2 separate regions of the Homo sapiens genome follow, and region 2 is linked to region 1. Evidence: fine-mapped expression QTL. A gene starts in region 1. The other region holds a variant in brackets. All regions are shown on one strand. Distances are from middle to middle.

Evidence for each region. PIP is the estimated chance that this variant, and not a neighbour inherited with it, causes the effect.
Region 2: its variant is fine-mapped to the expression of PYROXD2 in prefrontal cortex (BrainSeq, PIP 0.95).

The regions. Positions count from the first base shown.
Region 1 is chr10:98,407,506-98,419,029 of GRCh38, forward strand. PYROXD2 (pyridine nucleotide-disulphide oxidoreductase domain 2) reads right to left here and starts at 7,677. Exons shown (of 16, transcript NM_032709.3): 1 at 7,504-7,677; 2 at 3,434-3,453; 3 at 399-492; 4 at 77-150. The coding sequence starts at 7,630. HPS1 (HPS1 biogenesis of lysosomal organelles complex 3 subunit 1) reads right to left here. Exons shown (of 20, transcript NM_000195.5): 19 at 10,670-10,752; 20 at 8,693-10,221. The coding sequence ends at 10,059. RefSeq lists an enhancer at 1,507-1,706 and a silencer at 1,713-1,913.
Region 2 is chr10:98,382,938-98,394,461 of GRCh38, forward strand. It overlaps PYROXD2 (pyridine nucleotide-disulphide oxidoreductase domain 2), which reads right to left. Exons shown (of 16, transcript NM_032709.3): 9 at 10,005-10,146; 10 at 9,495-9,629; 11 at 8,073-8,145; 12 at 7,661-7,817; 13 at 5,417-5,571; 14 at 4,264-4,370; 15 at 2,010-2,130; 16 at 631-931. The coding sequence ends at 861. Among named protein-coding and RNA genes, the nearest start is that of MIR1287, 6.6 kb to the right of the region's middle. RefSeq lists an enhancer at 8,571-8,620. The variant GTTTTTTTTTT/G (reference allele first, on the strand shown) is at 4,687.

The DNA of each region.
Region 1 (11,524 bases):
AGGGACCCCCCACACAGGTTGGGAAGATGGAACTGCCTCCTCCCTCCGTGCAATCGGGCCGGCGGGGGGGCCCTACCTTCAGCTCCAGATCAGTGTAAATCTGCGGCCTCAGCAGGCTGAGCAGGTAGGACGCGCGGGAGAACTTAAACCCTGAAACCGAATCCGATGAAGACTGTCACCAGGGGTCACCAGGGATGAGGACCGTCACCAGGGGTCAGCAGGGATGGAGACCGTCACCAGGGGTCAGCAGGGATGGAGACCGTCACCCGGGGTCAGCAGGGATGGAGACCGTCACCCGGGGTCAGCAGGGATGGAGACCGTCACCCGGGGTCAGCAGGGATGGAGACTGTCACCCTGAGTCACTGCCCTCCACTCCCCCATGCCACATCAGAGCTCACCTGGGATGATCTCCTCAGTGACAGCTGCACCCCCGATCACATGGCGCCTCTCGAAGACGGCGGTGTTCACCCCCAGTCTCTGCAGGTACGCTGCCTGGGAAGTGGGGCAGCACACAGGGCCCTCCCTTTATCCCTCTGAAATGTCAGGGCTCCCTCGGGCTGACCCGCAGACTAAGGTCCTCACTATAGGCCAGTATGGGCCACACCCCATGGCCTCCCTGCCCCGCTCATGCTGTTCCTGCCTCTGGGAATGCCCTTCCCTGTGCTTCCCTTTCCACCCTCGCCTTTTCTAGATGTCCTCTAAGATCCGACAGGCCTGCTCCCGCCCCTCCACTTCCCAGCTGAAAGTGGTCTTCCCTCCTTAGAGGCCTGGTGCCTCGGGGACTCACGCTGCTTCCTGCCACCCTGCCCTGGGATGTCGCTCTCCTCCAGGCAGGGAGCCAGCCTCATTTCTCCTACAAGCGCAGCACAGTGAGGTGGAACTTGTGAATGCTGACCCTTCCACCCAGGTTCAGTCCCTCGTTCTCTCTCTGCTGCTGCAGCCTCAGTACCTGATCCGTCTGGCCTCAGTTTGTTCACATGCAAAAGTGGGGCTGATGAAAGTAGTCCCGGCTTTACCCACTTCATAAGGCTGCTGTGAAGATTAACTGAGCTGGTTCCTAGACAGGGTTTAAGTGGTCCCTGGCACAGAGAATGTACTCAGTAAATGAAGCGGTTCATAGCAGAGCTTTATTTTGGGAGAACAAATGATGCAAGGATTTCTATTAATTTTTTTCTAGCACTTAGTGGAAAAATCAATAAATATTTGTTGAACCAAACTGGTCATGAATCTACCGATCTAAAATGCTGGCCCTGTGACCACAGGAATGGTGCCATGCAAAAGTCGGACTTTTCAAAAAGCTCACTTGGCAGCTATTATGTGCCAGAAGCAGTGAGTACATTGTCTTGTTTAATTTTTCCCACCAGCCAAGAGGTAGGTACTATGATTCTCCCATTTTACAGATGAGAAGACTGAGGCCCAATGAGGTTAACAGCTTGCCTCAGGCTCACAGAGCTGATGAGTAGAGGTGTTGGGAATTGAAACCAGACAGCGTGAAACCAGCATCTATCCTCCTAACATAACCTCCTATCATAACCTACTGAGAAAGAAACAGCAGCTGTCACTCAGTGGCTGAGGCCTGGCACGCAAGGTGAGCTGCGTCATTCTCCTATTACACAGGAACGATCTCACAGATTGACAACCTCAAATAAGGTTTCTATGAGACTATGATAAAATGAGGCAAGCACAAACAAAAGCAATGTCTCTGTGCCATCCAGAAAATACCGAACACCCCTCTTGGCTGAAATGAGTGACTGCTACTTCTTTATCAATTACTGCTCTCTGCACACTCGTCTCTCCTCCCTACAGATCAGATTTCTTGAGCTGCCCAGTTGCAGGGCTGTCCCTCCTTCCTGACAGTATCTAATCTGTGGCAACCCCTATTTTCGTAGGCCTTCCCTCAAATCACCAAAGCTCAAATCCTGTGCTAGGTTCTTTCTAACACCTTCCTACTGAGGCAACCCGAGGTTCCCCTGATGTGAGTTCCCTCGCTGCAAAGAGCAAGAAACCAAACTAGACTAACTACAAGTGTGTTCCTGGTGGGCTTTGGGTGAAGGGCTGTGGATGCCAGCCTTCCTTGGCCTGGAAACTTCCAGTAATAACAGCCACCATTTGGGCAAGGCTGCATGTGCCAGGTCCTAGCAGCAAATGATCTATTACCTTCACAGCAGCTCTGTGAGGGCAGGTGCCATTGTTCCATTTTACCGTGACTCGGAGAGGCTAAGTGACACCTTAACCTTCACAAAGTGGCAGAGCTGGGAGATGAATCTTTGTTTATATTAATATAAAATCAGGCCGGGCGTGGTGGTTCACGCCTGTAATCTCAGCACTTTCAGAGGCTGAGGCAGGCGGGTCACCTGAGATCAGGAGTTCGAGATCAGCCTGGCCAACATGGCGAAACCCCGTCTCTACTAAAAATACAAAAGTTAGCCAGGCATGATGGCGGCTGCCTGCAATCCCAGCTACTCAGGAGATTGAGGCAGGAGAATTGCTTGAACCCGGGAAGTAGAGGTTGCAGCGAGCCGAGATCATGCCATTGCACTCCAGCCTGGGTGACAAGAGCAAAACTCCGTCTCAAAAAAAATTAAAATAAAATAAAATAAAATAAATGTTTTAAATTACTGATCCATTGAGTTACAAAATGCCGCACGTAAAATGTTCAAGTAAAACTTAGACATCAGGCAAAGTATTAAGGTTTAACATCAGTCCGTTAGCACAGCCACAGTTTCCCCCTATATTGATGTTCTAGAGCTGCTGCTGCTTCAAGAAGATGTTCCACATTTGTTTTGTGGCCTTGAATGCCTTCTGTGGCCTCCTGGAGGTATCTGGACTCAGGTTACAGAAGCATAAGCTAAGGATAGCTCTGGGATATCCAGCTCAGTTTGGGATCTTGAAGTCAGTTGTGTTGGGGACAGGGCACAGGCCCTTCTGCTAGACTGAGCTCCTCAATGTCTCCAGGGCACACTTTGGCCACATAGCAGCTATGTACTCCAAGGTGGTACCTGGCCTGGACCTGGCTGGGAACACAGGGCTCTAGACACAAGGGCTGCCTATGATCTGGAGTCAAGGGCCCCCACCCCGCCCCAGGTGCCCAATCCCCTGGTTCCCACCTGCTCTCATGCTGTGTTGGTTACATGCTTCCCCACCTTGTCAGCTTGTTTCTGGAAGCTCCCTGACTCCCTCACAGGCCATGGGGAAACCACCTTTCCCCATTAGGGGAAGGGGAGGAAAGGAGCCTGTGATGTCCACAGCTGGCTGCAGATGAGCATTCGACCCAGCCCCCAGTCAGCACTGGAGAGCAGAGAGCATCGACTAGGCTGCCTTTTCCTTCTCTCTCAAGGCCCTTATCCCACCTGCTTCTTCACACTCCTTCCCAGGCTGCTGAGAGCCACACGCCCAGGGCCAGTGAAGTGGGATCAAGTGGGGAGGTACTCACAGCCACCAGTCCGTTGTGTCCTGCAACAAAACGGGACAGGGAAGGAAAACATCACTGGTCAGCGGGCGGGCAGACAGACAGTCCTTGAGGAATGTGCTCCCCGCTGCCCGTCCCCATGCCATGAAGATCCTTGGTGACCCTCCCCTCCCCTTCCCGCACTCAGATGTTGGAACAGCATCTAGTTCAACTCCATGAAACACCAGATCTTCAAGGAGTCAGAAAACCCTGGTTCTTGCCTTGGCTGGAAAAGTCCTGCTCCCCTGGCTTGGTCAGGGGCTCTGCTGGAGTGAGGGGCTCATGAGAGCATCGCCAGGGCTTCCATTGCTTGGGAGGCGCAAGTGATGGTGTCTGAGGGAGCAGCACGGTTGAGTTGGCAAGCAGGAGAAGCAATGGGTGGCTGGCATGCTGCTGCGCCAACGTCCCGTCTCGCATGGCAGCATCAGCATCCAGGGGAGTGCTGGTCATGTAGGTAGTTGCTATCAAGCGCGGCTTGTTTTGTCCACGTGTGGTTCACAATCGGCACAGTGGTGCCCTAGAAGGCTTTATTCACATGGGTTTTTTTTTTTTTTGCCAATCCCCAGTGTTCCAAAAATAAAACATGAACAGTTCAACATGAAGTAAACATGCACAGCTTCAACATGTGCTGGAGTGACTAGCTGTGCTTCAGGGTGCCTTGAGCTGAGAGGCCTGAATTTGGCTTTGGCATCTCACGTTCCACACCAAGCCCCTGGGTAGCAAGTGCCTCTCCAGCTCTGATAAGCTCAGAATCACCTGGAAGGTTGTATAAATGTCGACTCCCACAGACCCCCTTCCCAGGAGTCTGTTCAGCAGGTGTTTCACAGAACCAAAAGTTTCATGAGCTAAAATTAACTCTTACCATATGAGAAGCATGTGAGAAGCTAGTTGGTTACAGTTCATCTTAAAAAGTGCTGGTTGACATACTCTTTATTTGTATGGGCTTTTGAAAATGTTCATAAGAAAGTTTAAACAATCCGCCAGTGGGACTCATGAACAGATGGAATCTGTCTCTCAAAGACATGCAGCAAACTAAAGGCAGACAGTCCTGGGCTCAGCCCAGCCTCTGCTATTTGCCAGGGCATGACCTCAGAGAGTCATCAGCTGCCCTGAGCCTTGAGTTTCTTCACATGGGGAACAGAGGGTGCCAGGGACCCTGCAGTGTGGCAAGGATGAGATAAATGGGAGCTATTTGTCTTTTAATTGGTGCTGATGATCGATCTTGGAAAACTCATAGTCTTCCAGGCAACTGGGTCCAGTTCAATCATGGCAGACCTCAAATGAGTAAGGTCAAGGATCCAAAGCACAAGACCCCCTCCCAGTGACCACCCTCAAGTCCTGGCTGAGCCCTCCTTGGCTTCTGGTGACACCTCTGTTCCCTTGAAGAGGACTTCAGCTGCGGGCTCTGCTAATCCCCAGACCTGCCTCAGGGGCCCCATAGCAGGCGCCTGGGCCCTTGAGGAGCTGCTCTGGGCGTGGGCTCTGCAGCTGCCTGCATCAGGCAGTGTTGGTTGGGTGGATGTGCTGACCTCTGGGAGACACCTCCCGCCCTCAGAATGCTCGTCACCAGGTATGGGGCCAGGAATCTCCATTTTAACAAGCCCCCTCAGTCACTCTCAGGCACATTTAGTCAAATGACTAAATGAGATTCATCTTCAAGGTGGCGGCCAGGTGCCAGTGTGCCTTCAGGGACTCAGAGGTAACCCTTGTCTCAGAAGATGCCGTTCTGTTCCTCACTGAGGCCCAAGATGCCTTTAAACCAGGCTTTATGGTATGTTTAGCAACTAAAGAAATCATGTCAAGGAAAAGCTCACACACTGAGACTCACTCGCACTTGTAGGCAAGTCACCAAGGCAGCTGGTGACCTAAAGTCAACCTTCCCCATTAGGAGACAGCAGGGTGAGCTGTGGCTGAGCACGGAAGGAGGCAGGGGGCTTCTCTGAGGCTAAGTGAGGTGCTGGAGATGGCTCCCACCAGCCCGGGGAGTTTGTGAGCCGGCTGTCAAACAGCCATTGATATAAACTAAATTATATAAGCTTACAATTAAATAAATTAAAAACAAAGGTAATAAATACTCAAAACACACTACCTCCTATTTGTTTTACTACATTTGACTGTTGCCCATGCCCTGGCAGTCACTGGCCTCTATGTACATATCTGCATGGTGGACACACTATACAATGATGTGCTACTGGGTATCTCTCCTAAATCACATTGAGCAACCTCATCTTGGTAACAGAAAAGGCTATGGTGGGAGTATTTACACCACTGTCATCAGCAAATATTACACAGAAGGGCTGAATTTATTTTTTGTGGTCAGGCTTAAGAAAGTGATGGGAAAATGCTAATAATGCAGATTAAACCTAACAGTGTTAGCTGTTATAGCATGAATAAATAGCACAAAAATTGAAGGAAATATTCTAGTATTAGAACAATATTATCTTATTTGAGTAACATCATTCCTGTCATTTAAAGAAGGAGGCCGGGCGCAGTGGCTCACACCTGTAATCCCAGCCCTTTGGGAGGCTGAGGCAGGTGGATCACAAGGCCAGGAGTTTGAGATCAGCCTCGCCAACATGGTGAAACCCCGTCTCTACTAAAAATACAAAAATTAGCCGGGCGTGGTGGTGGGCGCCTGTAGTCCCAGCTACTCGGGAGGCTGAGGCAAGAGAATCGCTTGAACCCAGGAGGCGGAGGTTGCAGTGAGCCGAGATTGCGCCGCTGCACTCCAGCCTGGGCAACAGAGCAAGACTCCATCTCAATAAATGAATAAATAAATAAAATAAAAATAAATTTTAAAAAATAAAGGAGTAAGGTTGGGACATAAATCTTTGTTGTTTCATTTGTTTCACGATCATCCTACTCTTTACAGAAAATATGGAGCACCGTTCTCTTTGGAGCTACCCTCATTTGTCATTTGCAACTATAGGTTGGCTACTGAGTTTGGCAAAAATCAAAGAAAGCCTTTGGTAAGAATCACTCGGGTAGACTGCATTTAAATTGAGAGTATTGTATCTTTATTTGTAAAATTGTGTGCAGTGTATCTTTTATTTCAATATTTAAAATAAGCATGTGTATATGTGTATATATATGTACGTAACACATATACATATATATACACATATATGTGTGTATATATACATATATATACATGTACACACACACATACATCACACATTTTTCCCTGGAGAGGTGAGTGTTGAGTATCTACCAGCTCGCAACTGCTCTAGTACATATGAAAATGAAGGCATGCCCTCAAAGCTGCATGTTGAGTGCCGTCTGCTTTCGGTCCCGTCATTATCTCTGTATAGACCCAGTTGGCAATCATGCATTTGGGGCCCTCTGCAAGTGTGAAAGGAAGGCACTAAGGAAAGACCACCTGGTCCTGGGCCTGCCTCTTCCCCTAGCACCCAGTAGACTGTGATACTCTGAGCCCAGGGGTTGGCAAAGTGTGGCAGATCACTGCAGATCCCCAAATGTCCCAGAGCTGCAAGGCAATGGGGTCCATCTCCCTCTGCAGACACGCAGTAGGAACTCTGGGACTCAGTTCTGTTTTATCCTAACTGGCCTTTATGAAATGACTGCAGTTTCTTGTGACGAGGGGTGGCCTCAGTGGTAAGGTAGTGGTGACCAGAACTCAGGGCACTGAGGGGGCGGGGTGCTGGATTTCACTTGTCTGTTGGCCCAGGGCTCTTTCCAACCCTTACAAACCATAGGCTGAGAATGTGGTGGAAACTAGGTCACTTTGCAAGAGATATAGGGAAACCCCTGAGCTCACCTAGTCTTCCTGTCATTCTCCATGGGAAGATCCAAGCCCAGAGAAGGCAAGCATTTGCCCCAGGCCACACAGCAGAGCCAGCACCGGAATCCCAGGTGCCTGCCTGCCAGATGGAAGGGCTTTCCATTGCAGCCCCTGCTAGCGTATAAACTTCTGGCTGGGTTATGCCAGAGGAGAGAGCAGTGGGGCTTGGCTCCCCCTCCCCCTCCCCACCAAGCTCTGAGCAGGGCTGTCTTCCCGCCCCTCAGCTCTGGCCCGGCCTGCTTTACCACTTTACCTGCTCCTATCACCACCGCATCATACTCAGGCTTCAGACCTCCCCTGGCTTCCGTGTTATCTCGTCTCCACGCCGGGAAGGGAGAGGCGGCCACAGCCTTGCAGAGACCTCGGCCACTTGCAGCCATTTCTGCCCCAGGCTGGGCCTTGCTAGGCAGGGAGTTTGCTAGCGATTGGCTTTTGTGCTGCCCTAGGCACGGGGTGGAGCAGGGAGGAAGCAGGAAGAGGAGGAGCTGCAGTCCCCCTCCAGGCCCCCTCCACCATGCATTCTTGGCCACAGGCCAGCCTCCTGCTGCCCTGGGGCTGTGCTGGGCCGTCGGGAGTGTTGCCTATTAACCAGGCGGTGTCACCTCCAGGATGCAGGGGATAATGGCAAAACTGACAATCCACTGGGGTTCCTATGTCAGGCTGGCATTGTGCTGAACCCTGTAGGCAAAACTCCCCATTTTACAGATGAGGGCGCTGAGGCTGCGGGGTTAGGGAATGAGTGGTGGAGGCAGAGTGGAGCTCGAAAGGGCCCTCTCCTCCCCTGTGCATCTACCTTCTCAGTCAGAACTGAAACGCCTGGGATGGCAAGTGCTCGTGTCAGACTCTGCTCCAACTCCATGCTGAGTCTGCCAGTGCAGAGTGGTGATGCCTCTACGCCCACAGGAGGCGCCCAGGGCGGCCATCTAGCGTCACCACGACCAGGGCCTTCAGACACCGCAGAGGCAGCTGTGTCTGTCGCTGAGGAGCACTGGAGTCCTCTCCTAAATGCTCAAACACAAACCCACAACGAGGGCTTAGGGGCAAGTTCGCTGTCTGTAATTCTCTGGTGTTTTAGTTTTGAAGGCCTGGCCAGTTCTCCTCTTTTGGCACCTTGCCCATTTTCCAAGAATCCCCAAGGATTCGAGGTCACATCTGTAAATACCTCCAGCTAAAGTTCTTTCTGACCCTCCCTTAGGCCTGCCTTGAATTAGGAGCCCCTTTGTTCTCTGCCCATTACTTAGCAGAGTGTTCCCCTAGGAGGAAAAAACCCCTTGGAGCGGAGAGTTCCTGCACTGCTCTGATATCGCAGTGTGACGGAAACCTGCTATTGGTAACGAATCTCAGAACTGGGAGAGTATGTGGAGATGATCCTAAGAGGGGGTTCCGAGGACCCCTCCACACACCATGGACAGTTACCCCGCATGTGAGCATCTCTGCTAAGATCTGATTCAGGATGTTCACTCCTGTGTTATTTATTATATAGAAAGATCAAGGGGACTGGTTAAACTAGACATATCACATCCAGCCGCTGCTAAAAACTAAAGGGAAATAGTAGGTGACAAAAGCAGGGGTCCTGAACAGTGGTGGGCTCAGGGGATTGGAGTTTTTTCCTTTATGTTTTTCTGTATTTTCCACAATCCACGCTTTTCATTGCCATTCCATCAGATGATGTTAAGGAGGAACACAGATCCAGTCACCTGAGGGGATACTTCCTCACTGCCACCTTCTCAGGGTTTAGACCAACATGTGGGTTCTAGTTCCCCCAGCCCCAAAGCTGTTCCCTGCAAGGAAGAGATCAGTCTTTGAGCAAATTTTGGCTCAAGACTAAAGACACAGAAGGCGAGGCTCCTGCATGCACAGCACACGGCCATCTGATCCTGTGCTGCAGTGGACGCTGACTTTCGCCACGCCGTCCTCTCTGGCCCAGCACCGGCCTCCTGGCCTCAGAGGAGCAGACACTCCCAGTCCCAGGGCTCTCAGGGTCTCTTGTCCCTGGGTCCATTCTGGGACAGGAACTTCTCGGTTGGAAGAGAGGGGCTGTACCCCTCGGGTGGTGGTTCTCAATCCAGGGCGCACCACAGAAGCTTTGAAAGACATCAAAGGCTGGGCTCCACGGCCGCCAAGGGAATCCAAATCTCTGGGCCAGGGCCAGGGGCTTGAGAACCCCAGCCCTAGGGCAGACGCCAGCCAAGCATGAAGGGGCTGGGACTTAGCAAGGGCTTATCAGCACTGACAGAAGGGTCTAGAAGCACTAGCATGTTGGGCTTCAGTGATAACAATGACCAACATTTATTGAGCACCTACCACACTGGGTAATCCTCACACCACCCTGGGACGGAGGTGCCATCGCTTTAAACGTGGGGAATAGAAGAAACTTGCCAGGAGGTGCAGAGAGGAAGTGGCAGCGCTGGAATTCAAACCCAGGCAAAGGAGCACCTTTTACCTGGGGTAGGAGAGAGCTTGCTGGGTGGGCTTCCTCCACGCAGGGAACAGCAGAGATGGGGCTTCCTCCCCATCTCCCAGGATAAAGGCAGAGGCAGCTCTGGAAGAGGAGCTGTTGCCACCGTTGTTTTACAAACAGGACCCCTGGGCTTCCCTCTTCCTCCAGAGAGAAGGATCTGGGGCCTTGCTCAGTACCTGACATGGAGGGTGGTCTAGGTGGGGTTTTAGAAGCCCTGGGGCCACCCTGGGCACTCTGCCCTATCCTCAGGATGGCCACTGCAGACAGGAGGCTCTCGTCATGGGGAACAGTGGCAAGCAAGGGTGGCTGGAGGACAGGATGCAAAGGCAGACTGCGGCCACCTTGGCCTAGAGCAGGGGGATACGGGAGGCCTCCCAGAGGCGCCGGGCCAGCTGGCCGGCCTGCTGCACCAGCAGGTCAGTGGGGATGACAGACAGGTGCAGGGCCAGCAGCTCGTAGCACCTGACAGCCTCGGTTGGGCGGTTCTTGCTGTAGTAGCGCAGGAGCTTCCTGGGGAGGAAGGGGAGGATGGGATTCAGGAGTGAGGCTGTGGCACTCCTCCAGCGCCAGAGGCCTCTCTGGGCCCTCGCAAGCAAATGCCCATGCCCTCGGTCATCTCACTAGGCCCCTGCATGTGGGCCTTGACAACCGCTCCGGTTCCTCACTGACCTAACAGTGGCATCCTGGCTACGAGGTAGCAGTGGGGATGTTCTGGGCCGGGCACAGACGTTCCCCGTGCTGCCAAGACCATGCCAGCAGGAAGGTGGTAGGAACACAGATGTACCCTCCACACCCGTCCTCCCTCGCTGCACACAGGGCCAGCCGGGAAGGTGTTCCCAGCGTGGATTTCTGGGTCTGAGGTAGGGCACTGCTGAAGCAGAAGCTGCTCCCGGCAGAGGCGAGCACTTATCACCCAAATGGGGGCATCTGTCCCCAGTGGCTCCCAACGCAGCGTCACCTGTAGTAGTCTCCTCCCAGCATGCCGATAGGCACTGAGTCGTCGGAGAGGACGGGCACCTCGATCATCTGGAGTTTGTACCCCTGAGGAGGGAGGACAGGGAGGCAGTGGGTGTGGGGGTAGTGCAAGGGCCTGAGTCAGACGCACCGGGCTTGCGGCCTGGCTTGGCTCTGTCATGTGCGCTGGGTGCTTGGGAAAATGCCTGGACCTTGTTTTTTCATCTTTGAAGTCAGAATGACAACAGTCACCTTATGAACATTAGAGAAAAAGTATACAAAGCTTCAAGGGCCGGCAGGGTAGCTCTCATTACCGTCAATACCTGGACCTGTACAGGCCACAAACACACGCTCAGGAGGGCACCCTGCAGGGCTGTCATACAGGTCTTGAAGAGCAGAGCATTCACAAAAGGCCCAAGCCTCTGCTCTGAAAGAATTGGGAATTCCCAGGGTGGGATAAGGTGGGGAAGGGAATTAAGATCTGCTGGACGTGCCGTGTGTGCCAGGCATGAACATGGCACTTAGCTGATGCTTGCCTGGGCACCGTGGCCTGCCCTGCAGGGGGAGTGGACTCCCTAGTGTGCAGGGCTGCCCCCACGGCACCGGCTGGGCTGTGTGGCTGGCATTCAAACCTGGCCTCTCCAGCCCACAGCTCTGCCTCACTTTATCACCCCACGGGGCCACCCAAGCACACAGACTCCTGTCCCTCCCTAGAAGTGAAGGTAAAGGTCACAGGAATTTTCTAGCACTTCTGTTGTACACACGTCCTGGGCACTTCTGAGGGCACGGAGGAAAGCTGGGAGCCTGCAGGCCGGGGGAGCAGAGCTTGGGCTCCGGCTTCCTCACTTACAGCCTCGGT
Region 2 (11,524 bases), 25 kb before region 1:
TTGCCTGACTGGAGGATTCTGTGGCTTGAGATGCCCAGCATTGTTCAGGACCGTGGCCTTTGAGGGTGACTCTGTGGATCATGGGGAAATTGGGTCCATTCTTATAGCTTGCCAGGAATGTGACAGCGGTTGACTGGGCCCCACCTGGGCAGTCCTCCAATTGTTGGTAGTGGGGGTCCCAGGCAAGGACAGGGGATGCTTGGATCAGACTCTTCCACTGGTTAGATGGACTGTTTTTTGTTTTGTTTTGTTTTGAGATGGAGTCTCTGTCGCCCAGGCTGGAGTGCAGTGGCACAATCTCGGCTCACTGCAACCTCTACCTCCTGGGTTCAAGTGATTCTCTTGCCTCAGCCTCCCAAGCAGCTGGGATTACAGGCGCCCGCCACCATGCCTGTCTAATTTTTGTACTTTTAGTAGAGATGAGGTTTCACCATGTTGGCCAGGCTGGTCTTGAATTCCTGACCTCAAAGTGATTTGCCTGCCTGAACTTCCCGAAGTCCTGGGATTACAGGCATGAGTCACCATGCCTGGCCTTTAAATGGACTGCTTCTTAGCTGATGTAAGAATTATGAGTACCCCAGAGAAGTCTATCCCACCAACTAACACAGAGAAAAAATACAAGCAAAATAATCTGTATGAAATATTAGTTTTAATAAAACAGAACCAGTCCATGTATGGAGGCATGGGCATAAGGTCAACTTGCACTAAATGTAACTCGTACGTTTTTTCTAAAATAATTTCTTGAGCATTGTGGTGGCCTTATGTACTAACCCGAAGCTGAACTTCCTGGGAAGCTGATCCAATGGAGCACTTGGAATTCAGGGGTGGAGTCTTCTTCCTGGGTCAGAGCTGGTTCAGGGTCACATGCTCTTGAGGTCCCTAAAGGCCACATGTGCTGCATTTCGCCCAGCAGCTCCCATCACACCTCCTCCTGGAAGGGAATCTCCTATGAACCAAAGCTCCGCTCAAAAACCTGCCAGGGTGGGGGTGGGGACAGGGCTTACAGAGATCCAGCAACAAAGCAGAGTGGGGCTGGTTAGAGGGGTCCGGGGGCATGGGCACTGGAATCACCTAAGACAGCCGCTCAATAGATTCTGGCTCCCTCCAGGCTTCCTGCACCAAAGGTCTGGGGAGGGGCCAGGTCCACAGCCCACAGTCTCAACGGCTGAGGGTGGACGTGCTGGATGGGCACACGCTTAGTAAGTGAAGTTAAAATTTCAGAATAAGGGGCTGGGGGGAGGGGGAAGATGTGTAAGCCCAGACTCTTTCCAGGGTACCAAGTCTACACAGCTGAGAGAAAGTGTGCATAGCAAATAGCCTCAGCCAGCTCCGTTAGGCTTGGAATGCGCACAAGAAAGAATTGTAAAGTTGAAGAAGTTAACTTTATCCATCCTTCCTGGTCTAAAATATGGATGGAGGCCTCTAATCCCAGCACTTTGGGAAGCTGAGTGGAGAGGATCACTTCAGCGCGGGAGTTCGAGACCAGCCCGGGCAACCTAACAAAACCCATCTCCACAAAAGAATAAAAAATTAGCCAGGCATGGTGGCACACACCTGTAGTCCCACCTACTCCAGAGGCCGAGGCAGGAGGATCACTTGAGCCCAGGAGGTTGAGGCTGCAGTGAGCTGTGATCATACCACTGCACCTCCAGCCTAGGCGATAGCGTGAAGCCCTGTCTAAATATATATACGGATGGGGAATTTAGGGACATGGGTCTCTCACAACCCCACATTGGAATGTGGTGAGATGCCTCCACCAGGATGCATCCCCAGGCCTCCTGAAGGGGAGGTGTGAGCTCAACTGTGGGCTGTGGTCAGCCTGGTGGAGGCAGCGGCTGTGTGCTCACCTGTGCATGGATAATTCTGAACACAGGGCAGCTTATGTTGGGAGTTCCCTGCTCCCCTCCCTCTCTGCCACCTTCATTGCTTAACTTCCTCCTTCTCCAAGTCTCTGGCCTCCAGTGAGCCCTCCCAGTCCCCACAGGGTAGTGGGACTCCAGGTCACTCACCAGGATGAGCCCCACTTCCACAGAGATACAGGCCCTGGAGAGGGCAGCGGTAGCCAGAATGCAGGGGCACGGGGCGGGCGAAGTAGAGCTGGTCCAGGGACATGGCGCAGTGGAATATGTTCTGCAGAGGCAGGGCCACAGTCATCAGCACAGGAGAGTTACAGCCTTTCCTGCTCTGGCTGGGTTTCTTCCCCTCCCCTGTTCTTCAGCAAATGTTCTTCTCCTTCCAGGATATTTTCTTGGGTTTTAAAATGCAGAAAGGGAAGGAGATGAGACGGAATGGGCACATGCCCTGGGGCTGGGAGTGAAGTTTTCCAGAGGCTTTTTGAGGAAGAAAGCAGGGTGGGGAACACGAACTGAACGGGAAGGAAAAGAGGGTTTTGCTCTCTACTCTGCATCCCTCTCCCTCTGTTGGAAAAACAGAATTGTCTGACTTATTGTGGCTGTTGGCATGCGTCTCTGCGAGAACTCCCTTCTCTGGCCAAGGCATCCACCTGAGCCCGGACCCCGGTGTCCAAGCTCCAGCAGGATCACTGTGAATGGCAGACAAGGGGCAACGGAGCCCGAGCACGGTTCTGCCCCCCTGGCTTGGGTGAGACCAGCCCCAGGCTGAGAAGGGAGGCAGCATGGGACAAGCGAAGGTCAGACTCAGGGGGCAGGTCTGGACAAGAAGCCTGACGTCTGTTGGGCATCCTCACAGGAGTGCTCCCCCACTGCCCTCTTCACCTTTCCCCAAACTGAGGCCATCCTCTTCCCTCGAGTCTGCTCCTCCCCATCCTCCTGCATAAGTGAATGACACCACCTTCCTCCCCCTGGCCTCTGTGCCTACCCTTCACATCACCTCCACCCTGACTCCTATGTGCACACTGTCACCAAGGCTTCTCAAGTCTGCCCGCCCCATGCCTGCTGTACCCAGCCATTCCCTTCCTTCCCGCTGCCTGGCCTTCTTTCCTCTATACCTGGACCAGTGCTGTTCAGTGAACATGTAATGGGAGCTACATATGTAGTTTTTGATTTATTAGTAGCTACATTTAAAAAGTAAAAGCAGAGCCGGTTGTGGTGGCCCATGCCTGCAATCCCAGCACTTTGGGAGGCCAAGGTGGGAGGATCACTTGAGCCCCAGAGTTTGAGACCAGCCTAGACAACACAGGGAGACTCATCTCTACAAAAAAAAAAAAAAATTAGCCAGGTGTGGTGGTGCATGCCTGTAGGCCCAGCTACTCAGGAGGCTGAGGTGGGAGGATGGATGGCTTCAGCCCCAGAGGTCGAGGCTGCAGTGAGCCGTGATTGCACTACTGCACTCCAGCCTGGGTGATAGAACAGGACCTATCTCTAGAAGGAAGAGAGGGAGGGAGGGAGGGAGGAAACAAGGAAGGGAGGGAGGAAGGAAGGAAGGAAGGAAGGAAGGAAGGAAGGAAGGGCAAGCTGATGAAACTAATGTCAATAATATATTTTATTTAGCCCAATATATCCAAAATATTATAATTTCAACATGTAATCAATATATAACTTATTGATGAGATATTTTACATTTTTTTCTATACTGTGTGCATTCTACACTTGCAGCACATCTCACTTTGGCCTCAGATCTTTCTTTTGCTTTTTTTTTAAATTTTCTTTCTAGAGATAGGGTCTCATTCTGTTGCCCAGGCTGAAGTGTAATGACGCATCACAGCTCACTGCAGTCTCAAACTCCTGGGCTCAAGCGATCATCCTGTTTCAGCTTCCTGGGTAGCTGGAACCACAGGTACGCACCACCACACCTGGCGGGGTTTTTGTTTTTGTAGAGATGGGGTCTCACTACGTTGCCTAGGGTGGTCTCTGATCTTTCAAGTGCTCAGTAGCTGCAATGAGGCGATTGAACCTGGCCTCCTATCTGGTCTCCCTGTCTCCAATCTCTAGTTTTTGATAAATTGACAAGTCTGAGGATGTGCTGCTGCCTTGAGAAGGGGGTGCTCTCTCTCAAGAAAGTCAGATGGCAGAGCCAGCATAGTTGTCAAGGCAGAGGGCCACAATCCTGGTGACCTTCTCAGTGGGGGCTGTCCTGCCTGTGTTTCTGAGCCCCCACTAGGGATCCCCCATTCCCTCGGTTTGACCGCTTCTCTGCCCTCTCTCAGCCGGGGTCCCTGCCACTGTCCTCCCTTCCTGATGAAAGCTGAGTATGGAGGGACAAGATAAAGCAGAGAGGTCATAGCCAGGAAGTGAGGGTGCAGAGGGAAGGCTATGGTGAGAGACCCCCTAGGCTTATACATACCCCTCCAGGAAGCCCGAAGATTCTCTCCAAATCTGGTGGTGTGAGGATGTCTCTGCCAACCACAGAGTCCTTGAAGCCAGGGGCATAGACCTCGATGCAATCAAACACTGGGGTGCCAAAAACAGAGAAATGAGATGGTGTTAGGAAGAAGAGGAGGCACTATGGGTGTACAACTTGGCAAATTTACTAACAGTCATTAAATTACACACAGAAATGGGCTTATTTTATCATATGCAAATTATACCTCAATAGGTGAAAAACAAAAATCAGTCCACAAGCAAATGATTAATTCATCCCAAAGATGCATGGGTAGGCCAGTCCAGTCCCCAGTTTTCCCCACTTCCCTACCCCAACCTTAAACACGAAGCTGCTGATCTCCTTTTGCATATGCAGCTTTTTTCACCTCTTCACTTTTCTCAAGCT[GTTTTTTTTTT/G]TTTTTTTTTTTTTTTTGAGACGGAGTCTCACTCTGTCACCCAGGCTGGAGTGCAGTGGCGCAATCTCAGCTCACTGCAACCTCCGCCTCTGGGTTCAAACGATTCTCCTGCCTCAGCCTCCTGAGCAGCTAAGATTACAGGCATGTGCCACCACACCCTGCTAATTTTTTTATGTTTTTAGTAGCTACGGGGTTTCACCATGTTGGTCAGGCTGGTCTTGAACTCCTGACCTCGGGTGATCCGCCTGCCTCGGCCTCCCGAAGTGCTGGAATTACAGGCATGAGCCCCCACGCCTGGCCTGATCAAGCTGTTTCTCTTGCTTGGAATGCCCTTTGCTGCCTGGCCAGCTCCTAGTCATCCTTGGAAACCCAGCTTGACCATCCCTTCCTTTGAAAGCCTTCCTTGTCTCTCTGGCTCATGCGTCTCCTTTGGTTCGTGCAGTCAGCTGTGCTGTAATAAAAGGTTTCTTAATTAGTCTCCTCCATCCCTTGCTAGACTGTGAGCAACTGGAGGGCAGGAACTGTGTCTTCTTGACTTTCTTAGCCCAGTTCCTGACCCCTGCAGTCAACTATGTTGACTTGAGGTTCCCTTGACTATTTCCTCCCTTTGGAATGGCACCTGCAGTTGTCAATCCTGAATGGGGCAGTGAGGAGGAGCAGGCCCAGTTGGGTCGCATGCCCGGCTGTGGCTCTGGAGGCAGAACGTGCAGCTGTCTTTACCTCTGTCTGCATAAGCGTCTCTCTCCTGCTCGTCCCAGGCCTTGCCTCCAGCCAGCGTATAGGGCATGTACTGAGTGAAGAGGGAGACTACATGGCAGCCAGGGGGAGCCAGGGTGGGGTCCAGCGAGGAAGGGATGCAGAGCTCAATCACAGGCCTGTGCGGGCAGGGAGGAGACGGCAGGTCTAAAGAGCAGCAGTGCGGAGGGTAGGGCATCCGAGATGACTTGGGACACAGTGGAGGCCCTGAGATGACACCAATTCTGGGCGATTGTCGCTCTACAGCCACAGTGGTTGTCCACCTGCACGGGCTTAGCGGCTGCTAGCGTGGTCCAGAGCACCTGTGAGGAGCTCGCCTGACCCCAGACCCCCGAATGCATGGCCTGTCCTTGCCTGCCTTCATCACACGCTGTGCTCTAACCACAGCTCCCAAACGCAAATGTCTCGAAGGTCCACACAGACAGTGGGAGTGTGGAAAGGGGCCAGGCCTAAGACAGCAGGCGCCCAAGCAGCCAGATTTCAGCCAGGCTTTAGTGGCCTGACTGTCTTTTCCAGAGCAGACCAATGGAAGACAGAGCTGCTAGGGCTGCCCCGAGCCCCAGCAGAGCTGTGACCTGCTTCCCACCCCACCACCTTTGCCTGCCACACCTTTTCTACCTGGAGCATGTTCTCCCTCTGATCTCCAAATATGAGTCTCCTTCAAGGCCACGGGAAATGCCCCTTCTCCCTGCGTCCCTCAGCTGCAATGTTCTCGCTGAACTCGGATGTCCACCAGGGATCTCAAACATCCCCTGTTCAAACCCCAATGCCTGATTAGCCTCTAAAATCTGCTCCACCCCCACCGCCTCTTCCTCTTTTCAGTAAATGGAGGCATCATTTCACAGTCGCTCCTTTTTTTGACCCACATCCCACTCCCTATCCAACAGAAAGTCCTGTTGGCTTCACCTTCAAAACATACCCAGTCTTCCAACACTTCTCATCACTTCCCCTGCCCCCACCCTTGTCCAAGCCACTGTCCTCTCTCCCTTGGATTCTGCAACAGTAACCCATTGCAACAGATGCCTTAACTTTTTCTGCATACAGTGTCCAGGTTGGTCTTTTTAAAGCATAAGGCAGGCTCTGCACAAACTTTCCTGGAGTAAGAGCCAGGGCACTTGACAAGACCCAGCACCATCCGAGACCCTTCATTCCCAGGTGCTCTCTCTCCAGCCACTCTGGCCTCGTCCCTGTGCCTCCTATACAGCAGCACACTCCTGCCCCAGGGCCTTTGCACCTGACCTTCCCTCTGTCTGGACGTTTTTTCCCCAGATACCCATAAGATCTGTATTCTCACTTCCTTCCGGTCTCCGCTCAAGTGCCACGTTATTAGAGAAGCCTTTCCTCCCCTTCCCTGCCTATTTTTCTCCACAGTGCTCATCATCAGTGCTTACTTGTTGATTGTCTTCCTCTCATGGATAGAGAGTCAACGACCTGAGACTTTCTTGGCTTTGCTTGCTGATCTGTGCCCACTCACTGAACCAAGCCTGGCACAGAATAGAGACCCCAGAATATTTATAAATGGATGAATGAACTTTGCCCTATACCCTTCTTTCCAGGCGCACATCTTCTTTACCACATGCTATAAATATTTGTGTACCTGTCCTATCATAAGCTTTGTGTCAGTTTCATGCCCCTGCCCCGCTAATTCTCCCAGCCCATACCCAGTACAGAGTCCAGCACTGAGTAGGTTTTCAACAGTGTGTGCTGGACAGCGGACAGGATGGAAAGGCACTTGCTCCTATAGCGCCCCTGCCTGTTCCAGAAGAATGGAAATACAGCTGCAGTGGGAGGTGGGAAATGCTTTTAGAAGTTTTGCAAGAAGGCAGATTATCAGAAAAAGAAAGGCTACGGAGCAGGGGACTCGGTGAGTGCGTGCTCTCTGACGGGCTCTGAATGAGAGAACTTCCTTTGCTCTCCCAGAACACATTTTCTCCTCTTCTTCCCCAGCCCCAGCACTTTCCTGGGCAGTGCTCTGCCCCTCTGCCCCTTCTGCTAACCTGAGCCGCTCTTCACCCCTTACCTGCCCTCATCCTCAGATTTTTCACCTGGGATGCACTTCCTGTCCTTAGGAGTATGGATTTTGGCAGATCCTAAGTCACTGTGAAGGTTGAACACCAGGCCTGATCCCTGCTGTGGGTGGCATGGACAGCCCCGCCTCCCAGGCCCATGTGGAAGAACATCAGGGAACATAAAGTCCAGGGCCCCTACCTGTGGGAAGGCAGGCCATCCATGGCATCTTCAAAGGCCTGATGAAGGAGGAGGGTGTCTTCACAGTTCAGGTGGATGGAGCATTGGTGATGGGGCAGCGGCTGGCCCCTGGGAGCATTGGGGGCCGCCAGGAAGCTGGGCAGCCTGTCTACGGCCACTGAGGGACCAAAGAGGAGGGTCAGGTCTTAGCCCCACAAGGTCCTCCCTCTACAGCCAGCACCCTGCTACCCTCAGTGGCGGACGGGAGTAGGAAAGTATGAGCAAGTGTTTCACCTTCTGACCAGGCTGCAGGGGGACACAGGCTGGAGGTCCGGGAATGGAGATGATGACTGAGTTCAGCTGCCCCCAGCCTGGAGGTTTCTCACTCAGATGGGTCAAAGGAGACAGTGCTGCAATGTGGTGTGCCTCTTACCATTGATCTTGGTGACAGGCGACCGGGTGTCCAGCTGAGAGATTCTCTCCAGGAACTCCTCAGGAAGCCACTCCTGGAAGGAGAAGGCTCCATGAAAGGCCTCAGATGTCCAAGGCCCCAAGGAAGCTGCCTTCTTTCTTTGCTCAGGAAGATCCCTCAGTCGCTCCCTCCGGAAATCCTCTTCATCCTTCAAAGCTCAGCCAAAACCACCTCCCCTGTGAAGCCTTCCTAGATCCCCTCCCACTCAGCTCTAACCACTTCCTCCTCCGCGCTTGGCCAGCAGTTCTGACTGTGAAATAGTCCGCACCTCTCCCTGCTTGCAAAGGGGTCAGTGGTTTGCAGGCCTCTTTTCACTACTGGTCTGTAAGCTCTTGGAAGCCTCGACGATCTCAGAATTGCCTTAACAAGTTTCTTTTTACTGATGTTTGTTGAATTTTAGTAATGGAATCACTCAGAAAAAGTAGTGCTTTGCCCCTAAGAATTGCCCCCAAGAATGGCTAGGAGCTTCATGTGCGTATACATGTTATCATATCTTTTGAGCACAGGGTAAGTCAATTGCAAAAACTGCCCCCAAAGCTCACCCCTCCCTGTTTGCACACCCACTTCCGTGTAACCTTGCAGTGCTCTCACACTCTGACTCTAGGCTTGGCCATGAGACTTGGTCTGGCCAATGCTAGCAAACAGGATGCAAAGAGATCAAACCATGTGATGCTTGCATGCATGCTTGAGCTTGCCTGCTTTTGCCCTTTGCCAGACCTTGAGAACATGCCTGGACTACCGTGCTGGAGGAGGACAGACACATGGAGCATAGCCGAGTCCCCCACCCGGTCATCCCAGCAGAAACGGTCCTGGACCAGCCACCACCAGCCAGCTCCCAGGCACATGAAGGAGTCCCGCCAAGATCAGCAGCCGGCAAGCTGACCCACAGCCAACTGCAGACGCATGAGCAAGCCTTAAGCAGCTGAAATCCACCAAGATCAACTGAAGTCTCCAGTTCTGGGTGCCAGTATTTCTTGTTGTATGCCCAGAAGTATTGTGGCTCTTTGTTAATTGATTAATTAATAATCATGGATAATATAACAGATCATTGACAAAGACAATGGAATTAGAGCGGTGAGAGGGGAGAAATCAGGAAAGTAGGAAAGTTGTGGAAATAACTCTAGATTGAAAGTCAGACCTGGGTTCTAGCTCTGGCTCTGCCAATGGCCGGAATCTTGGTCACTTCACCTCTCTGGCCCCTTCTCCCCACCTGTGAGGCTTCTTCCCCGTTTGCTACCTGCCCTTACCCCCCTGTTTCCCAAATGCAGAGACTTGGCTTTTGCATCTCACACCCTGATGCAATCCTGGCTCCCTCAATCCCCACGATTTCTAACCCCTGTTTTGGCAGACATCTAAGCTCCACCCTCCTGCCCACAGCCTCACCTGTGGCGTCAGCTTCAGGAAGGTGATCTGCGGTGATGTGTTGGACAGCACCATTTTGCTTCTCACCTCTGTGCCATCTTCCAGCACAACTCCTTGAACACAGCCTTCACTGTTCACCTGCACCTTCGCCACTGTCTAGAGCCCACCAGAACAAGGCCCCAGAAACCGCAGGAAGGGAAATCCATGTTAGATCTTCCGGGATTTCCATGGTCTGTGCTGCTCCTAGGCATTCACAACTTCTTCATCCCAAACCCATCCCACCAAGTTCTGCAGCTTCTCCATGAAGCCTCAGCTTCTCCATGAAACACTCAGTCTCAGTTCAGTGACCAGGGAATTCCAAGGGGGTGGTTAGCCACTAACAGACTGCATGACCTTAATCTCTTGATTCTGCAACCCATCCCCTCATGGCCCCTCTGTTCATTGGTAAAACAAGGGACCTTCCAAATCTGAGACTTTGTTCTGTCCTGGGATCCTTACTAATAATTGGGGTGGGGTAGAGGGGCCGTTCACCTTTTCAGTGAAGATGCTTGCTCCATGTGTGGTGGCTGAGCTTGCGATCGCATCAGAGAGGGCACCCATGCCCCCCTGGACGTAGCCCCAGGCCCCCTGCATTCCCTCCAGGCCCCCCATCACATGGTGCAGCAGCACATACCTGTGGACAGACCATCCGACTCAGATCCTGGAGGTGGGATCTCATCTCCCCAGAGTTCCAGGTGCAACTATTCCTTTCCATCTTGATCTTCAGCCCTTCCCTGCCACCATCCAGCCCTCTCCCAGCAGCCTTCAATGAGCTCAAGTTCTTGTAAGAGCCCTTTGCCTTCTCTACACCCTCTCCCTAACAAGTGTGTCTATGTGCATAGCTTATTACCACAAAGAAGGCAACGATGCCCAAACCTGCAGCTCCAGCCCTCTCCTGAGCTCCAGCTCCGGTGTCCAGCTACCCACAGATATCTCCCTTTGGACCCTTTCTTGGCAGCATCTTAAACCCACCACCTTTTCCCCATTCTCCAGCTGCTTCCCCTTCAATCTTTCCCATCCCAGTGAACGGCACCTTTCAACAGGAGGTTCTGTTTCCGACAGAAATCCAGGTGTCAGCCTTGACCGCTACCATCCTTCCCCATCTACATCCACAAAGCAACACCAACTCAGCCTCCAAAGGGCTTTCAAGGTCATCCCACCTCTCAGCCTCTCTTCTCTTCCTTATGCTGCTGCAGTAGTGCCCCTCATTGGACCCCCTCTCCCACACTTTCTCTCCTGCAGGTCTTGTCCACATATATCCTGGAGCCCTATCTTAAAGCCCAGCTCTGCTCCTGCCACTCACTTATCACCATTCCAAGCCTCCCCGGCTTGGCACTGCTCTTAGGATAATGGCCAGTCTTCTAGCAGGCACTCCAGCCTCATCCCTCATCCTGTCCCCCTATCCATATCCCATCCTCCTAACTAACAGAACCTCTCGATTTCCTGGGTGGATCACACGTTCTCTCAACCCCAGCATTTCCCCTGCTGTTCTGTCGGCCTGAAGCCCCTCCCTCCCTCATCTTATGTTTTGTTAACTCCTCTTTGTCCTTTGGGTCTCAGATCAAACACCTCTTCCATGTAGAGGCTTCTCTGACCCTAGACCAGGCTGTGTCCCGGCTGCTCCTCCTAGCATCACACTCACGCCACTTCATCATCATCACTCGCTCTGTGTCTCTCACCCATCAGGACATCTGCTCCGCTCACTACCGTATCCCCAGCACCTAGCACAGGCAAGCGCTCATCCATATTTGTTGGAAGAATTAATGATGGAACAGATTACTTAAAGATCACAAACGGAGCACTGGTTAAGCCTCCCAGGGATCCGAAGAGAAAAGGGCAGGAGGCCCCAGCTGGAAGATCCAGATTGGCTGGTAGATCACAGCTTGGCCAATGTGTGGCAACTGCTGCCAAGCCCCCATCTCCATCGCCCTGGGGGAATTTGGGGCCGGCTTAATATGTGTTGAAAAACCACTTCCGAGGGTGTGCTCATCCCTTGAGAGAAAAGCCACGTC